Linked DNA regions of Homo sapiens: region 1 is linked to region 2. The links come from fine-mapping of genetic effects on gene expression. A gene starts in region 2. The other region holds a variant in brackets. All regions are shown on one strand. Distances are between the middles of the regions.

Evidence for each region. PIP is the estimated chance that this variant, and not a neighbour inherited with it, causes the effect.
Region 1: its variant is fine-mapped to the expression of MIR210HG in whole blood (TOPMed, PIP above 0.99).

The regions. Positions count from the first base shown.
Region 1 is chr11:618,721-621,614 of GRCh38, reverse strand. CDHR5 (cadherin related family member 5) reads left to right here. Exons shown (of 15, transcript NM_021924.5): 5 at 1-53; 6 at 160-270; 7 at 365-535; 8 at 1,229-1,319; 9 at 1,451-1,548; 10 at 1,734-1,934; 11 at 2,028-2,141; 12 at 2,225-2,309; 13 at 2,435-2,894. Among named protein-coding and RNA genes, the nearest start is that of IRF7, 4.2 kb to the right of the region's middle. RefSeq lists an enhancer at 911-1,516. The variant C/A (reference allele first, on the strand shown) is at 1,016.
Region 2 is chr11:566,920-569,813 of GRCh38, reverse strand. MIR210HG (MIR210 host gene) reads left to right here and starts at 1,357. Exons shown (of 2, transcript NR_038262.1): 1 at 1,357-1,462; 2 at 1,961-2,894. It overlaps MIR210 (microRNA 210), which reads left to right and starts at 1,616; the gene lies at 1,616-1,725. RefSeq lists an enhancer at 1-425.

The DNA of each region.
Region 1 (2,894 bases), 52 kb before region 2:
AGGACCGCGACAAGGACGACATTCTGTTCTACACCCTCCAGGAAATGACAGCAGTCAGTGCCGCCCACCCTGCCCCAGCACGAGCCCCTCGCCTCTGACACCCACAGCCGCCCTCGCCCTCCAAGGCTCTTAGGCTCTGTCCTCCCTGACCCTCCCCAGGGTGCCAGTGACTACTTCTCCCTGGTGAGTGTAAACCGTCCCGCCCTGAGGCTGGACCGGCCCCTGGACTTCTACGAGCGGCCGAACATGACCTTCTGGCTGCTGGTGCGGGTGAGCAGGTCACCCCAGCCCCGAGTCCCACACACTTGAGGCCCCCCGGCCCCAGCTGCTCCCAGGCCTGATCCAGCACAGCCGTCTGTTGCAGGACACTCCGGGGGAGAATGTGGAACCCAGCCACACTGCCACCGCCACACTAGTGCTGAACGTGGTGCCCGCCGACCTGCGGCCCCCGTGGTTCCTGCCCTGCACCTTCTCAGATGGCTACGTCTGCATTCAAGCTCAGTACCACGGGGCTGTCCCCACGGGGCACATACTGGTAATGGGGAGGGAGGGGCAGTGCACGGGGCAGGGCCTTCTAGGCAGGCTGGACACAGGGACGGCCAGGATCAGGAGAGGAAGGGCGGGGTCGGGGTCAGGGGGTGGGGCCGATTTCGGTCGTGATTTTGAAACAAATGCAGACTCTCCTTGTAAACCAACCCTTCCCATCTTGAGCGGTGAGGGAGCAAACCCTGAACACACAGGGAGGAGCGTGGGCCCCAGAGCCAGGCGGTCTCAGGGGCCTGGGGAGGTGGGCTGGGGCCCTGGAGCTCTTAAGGGATGCTGACATCTCTGCCCTGCTCACAGTCACCACTGGGCCCACACAGGCTGTCTGCAAACCTTCCTGGCACCAAGGCACCTGGGGCCACCAAACAGTACATGGGAGGCAGAAATGCAGACCCCGGGAGCCCCCACTTCCTAAATGTTTGCTTACCCGTCAAGACAAGCCTTGTGCAAATGGGACTCAGTATCTTTGGGC[C/A]ACTGGACTCATTCATTAGTAAGGGACCCACAGGGGTGTTACTGATTGTGATGCTGGGACAAGGGACTGTCCTAGGCAGGCAGGGACGCCCGGCCACCAGCGGGACTGGGCCCCTCCTCAGCCAACCCTGCCCTTGATGGGGAGTCAGAGGGGCCAGGCTGGGGCCATCCACCCCAGCCCCACGACGTGCCCTCCCTTCCGCCATCCCTGAAGCCATCTCCCCTCGTCCTGCGTCCCGGACCCATCTACGCTGAGGACGGAGACCGCGGCATCAACCAGCCCATCATCTACAGCATCTTTAGGGGTGAGTGGGGCCCAGCCCTCAACAATGCCCTGTACCCCCTCTGTCCCTGTCTCCATCCCCACCTTGGGCAGAGCTGGCTGGGTCCCTGGGCCTCAGGGGGCCGGGGCTGAGCACTTCCATCATCCTCCCAGGAAACGTGAATGGTACATTCATCATCCACCCAGACTCGGGCAACCTCACCGTGGCCAGGAGTGTCCCCAGCCCCATGACCTTCCTTCTGCTGGTGAAGGTGAGGTGGGCACCTGCATGGGGGGCAGGGCAGAGGGGGAAGGGTGGAAGGTAGGGCGGGGGGTCAGGGCTGGGGGGCCGGGGCAGGGCCCCCGCCAAGTCTGCACCTGCCTTTCCTGAGCCCCAGCCTTCAGCGCCAGCTCCACCTTCAACCCCACTAGTCACTGCTGCCTCCCCCGCCTCCAGGGCCAACAGGCCGACCTTGCCCGCTACTCAGTGACCCAGGTCACCGTGGAGGCTGTGGCTGCGGCCGGGAGCCCGCCCCGCTTCCCCCAGAGACTGTATCGTGGCACCGTGGCGCGTGGCGCTGGAGCGGGCGTTGTGGTCAAGGATGCAGCTGCCCCTTCTCAGCCTCTGAGGATCCAGGCTCAGGACCCGGAGTTCTCGGTAGAGAGTGCATCCAAGGCCTCCCCTCTGTGGGTGGGTCAGGGCTGTACGTGGGAGGCAGCCTGGCCGGGGACTCAATGAGACCCTGTCCAGGACCTCAACTCGGCCATCACATATCGAATTACCAACCACTCACACTTCCGGATGGAGGGAGAGGTTGTGCTGACCACCACCACACTGGCACAGGCGGGAGCCTTCTACGCAGAGGTGCGGGGCAGGGCAGGCGGGCATCTCCAAGGGTGTGGGGCTTAAAGATGTGTCTAGGAGGGACAAGCCCCTTCCTGCCCCAGGTTGAGGCCCACAACACGGTGACCTCTGGCACCGCAACCACAGTCATTGAGATACAAGTTTCCGAACAGGAGCCCCCCTCCACAGGTAAGCCCCCCTCCACAGGTGAGCCCCCAGGGTTCTCCAAATAAGCCCCTTCGGTGGCTCCTTTCCCGCGGTAGGTGTGCAAGGGGCGGGCAGAGGCAAGCCCAAGCACTGTTCCCGGCCCCCAGATGTCCCCCCATCCCCAGAGGCTGGAGGAACAACTGGGCCCTGGACCAGCACCACTTCCGAGGTCCCCAGACCCCCTGAGCCCTCCCAGGGACCCTCCACGACCAGCTCTGGGGGAGGCACAGGCCCTCATCCACCCTCTGGCACAACTCTGAGGCCACCAACCTCGTCCACACCCGGGGGGCCCCCGGGTGCAGAAAACAGCACCTCCCACCAACCAGCCACTCCCGGTGGGGACACAGCACAGACCCCAAAGCCAGGAACCTCTCAGCCGATGCCCCCCGGTGTGGGAACCAGCACCTCCCACCAACCAGCCACACCCAGTGGGGGCACAGCACAGACCCCAGAGCCAGGAACCTCTCAGCCGATGCCCCCCAGTATGGGAACCAGCACCTCCCACCAACCAGCCACACCCGGTGGGGGCACAGCACAGACCCCAGAGGCAGGAACCTCTCAGCCGAT
Region 2 (2,894 bases):
TCCGTGATCCTCTGGGCACCTTCCCCATCCACAGGCAGCCACAGGTGCAAGGAGCCACTCGGTTCTATCGGGGGCCAAGGGTCAAGGGGTCAGCAAGACCTCGGTCATGTCTTGCTGATCATGTCTGAGTCACCCCAGACTCTGCATCTGAATTTTTGTCCCCAGCCTTCAAGCCCCTGAGGACATGGGCTGGTTCGGAAGCTCCCTGGGGCCCCAGCACTTTGCCGCCGGGGCTGGGGCAGGGGGCAGGCTGCGGCCCAGGCCTGCGCGGATGCCGAGGCAGGGAGGTCATGGGGCCAGGGGAGGACAAAGAGCAGGGCGGTGAGTTTAGGGCCAGGGAGCTGAGGGGAGACGGCCCGGGGCCGAGGACCAGGGTGACAGTGCCAAGGGGGGCCGGCGGCCAAATCTCCTTTGGCTGCCACTTTGGAGCCCCACCCCGGAGTCCGATACTTCCACGTCTGAAGCTGGCCCTGCGAGTCCTAACGAAGGTCAAACCGTCAAGGCTCCTTTGATTTTACACGTTTTCAGCGCACAGACAGGATTCTCTCGCCTCGTCCCCTCAAAGACCGGCACAGGGCTGCGAAGACCCCTGAGCCCTTGAGGCACCCCCTCCAGGCTCCAGAGGCTTCCGCGGAGACAGAGCGCGCAGGAGGGACCCAGAGCCCCCAAGGGCGCCCCGTGGGGGTCGCCAGGCAAACCAGGCAGAGCCAGAGCCCCCTCTTCGCCAGCAGGACGGACCCGGGCGTCCTTTGGGGACCCCAAGCCGCCCGGGGGGTGGTGCGTGCGTCCCGAGGACGCCGTGTCCGGGCCCGCGCAGGCCCCACCCGGGTCACGGCCCGGGATACGTGCGCCGGGCGCCCAGCGGGTTGGGGGGGGCGGGCCCGCGGGACGCGGGTGCGGGGCACGGAGGCGGCCGGGTCGTACCACCGCGCCGCGGGAAGAGGGGCAGCTCCCGGCCGGCCCTGCCGCCCCACGCACACCCGCGGGCGGAGGACCCGTCGCCAGGCTGCGCCCCACGCCCAGCCCGGAAGCCCCGCGAGCCCGGGCCATACCACCGCGCGGCGGGAGGAGGACCACCTCGGGCCGTACCATCCGCCCGGCCGGGGGACGCGCCCTGGCCCCGCCGCGCCCTCGCAGCTGGCGCCCCGCAGGCCCCGCCCGGCAGGTGCCGCCCCTCCCCGGGCAGACGTGCAGAAAAGAACGCGCCGGCCTCGCCCGCGAAGGGCCGCGCGGCGGTGGGCGGGGCGTCGCGAACCCCCCTCGCGCCCACTGGCTGCGTTGCGGTAGGGCGGGCCCGGCTAGGCCGGCCATTGGCTGAGGGACCAGGTCATTTGCATACGGGGCTGGGCGTGGAGCCGCGGGGCCCGGGGCCGGTCGGGTCGGGCCGGGGGGCGAGAGGGTGCCAGCGGCCGCAGCTGAAGTTGGGCCGAGAGCCGGCGACGGCCCCGCGCCGGGGTCGCAGGTGACGCGCGAGGGATCCCAGGTTGGCGGGCGGGGCGCCCCTCAGAGGCCGCCCTCCCGCGGGGGCTGCGGGGGGTCGGGCTGGGCAGGCGCGGCGGGGCTCGGACGCCCAAGTTGGAGGGGACGGGGGTGGGGTCAATCCCTCCGCCCGCCCACCCGGCAGTGCCTCCAGGCGCAGGGCAGCCCCTGCCCACCGCACACTGCGCTGCCCCAGACCCACTGTGCGTGTGACAGCGGCTGATCTGTGCCTGGGCAGCGCGACCCTCCTGGCCCCGTGTCCGGGTCTGGCGGGCAGGCGAGCGGCCACACGGGGACGCGAGGGCAGCTGGATACCGTGGGGAGGGGGTGCCCTATGGACGGGGTGTGCCTGTCTGGCCAGCAGGGACGGCGGGTGGGGGTAAGCGAAATCATTCGGGGGCTTTGCTGCCCTCCGCTTGGTGGGGCTGAGGCTGGGCCAGATACCCTCTTGGAGGGAACTTTCTTTTCCTTGTGTGTCCAGGGTACCAGTGTGCGGAGTTCCTGTTGCCAAGCTGAAGGTGGCCCTGGGCAGGCACAGGTGTGGTCATATCTTCAGCCAACAGGACCATCCTCCGGAGGGCCACCTCTGGGGACTTCCTACGGGAAGAGAGTGACAGATTTGGTGCTTCTGTGTGTTTCTGCCGCTTCAGTGGGGCCGCTGCGGGAGACAGCGGGTGGATCCTCCAGCAGCCTGTCTGCTGAGCCTGCCTTCTCAAGTCTACTGTTAAAATCAGGACCGGGTCGTGTCCGAGCCTACAGGCCCTGTCTCCGCTCCCCAGGCCTGCAGGAGTTGAGGGCTGCACCTGCTCGCTGGAGAGGGAGAGGCAGATTTAGTGGACGCCTGGCATGGACTCGGACTGGCCTTTGGAAGCTCCCTGCCCTGACGGGGTTGCCTGTCACCACTGCGAAGTGAGGCTTGGCAGGACCTGCACCTGAGAAAGGCTGTGTGTGGTCTTGGGGTCCACACCTGCAGAGCTAACTTACTGCCAGACGGCGACTTACTGTGGGCCACCCTCAGTGAACCGGGGTGTCCTCAGCTGGCCCTACAGAGCACTTCTGTGCTGGGGATGAGTAGGAACTCTGGGCGAGGAGGGTCCCAGCGCCGCCCCTCGATACAGCCTGGCTCTGCCCTCTGCCCGTACTTACACCAGGTGGGATCCCTGCCCTGCATTGCCTGGGGATTGGCTGGGCTTGGGCCCGCCCTGCTGTGGAACTGGATGTTTTCAGGGAGCCCAGCCTTTCCTCATGTCAACACAGTTCACAATATAGTTTTCAAAGTACAGTTTAAAACTCAAAAGTAAACTTTTCAGCAACTCAAAGGTTTGCTGAGTGATCTGAAGCACTCTGGCCACTTTTTGGGGCCATGGGATTTGGTTCACCTGAAACAGCCAGTGAGAGGCCGGGTGTGGTGGCTC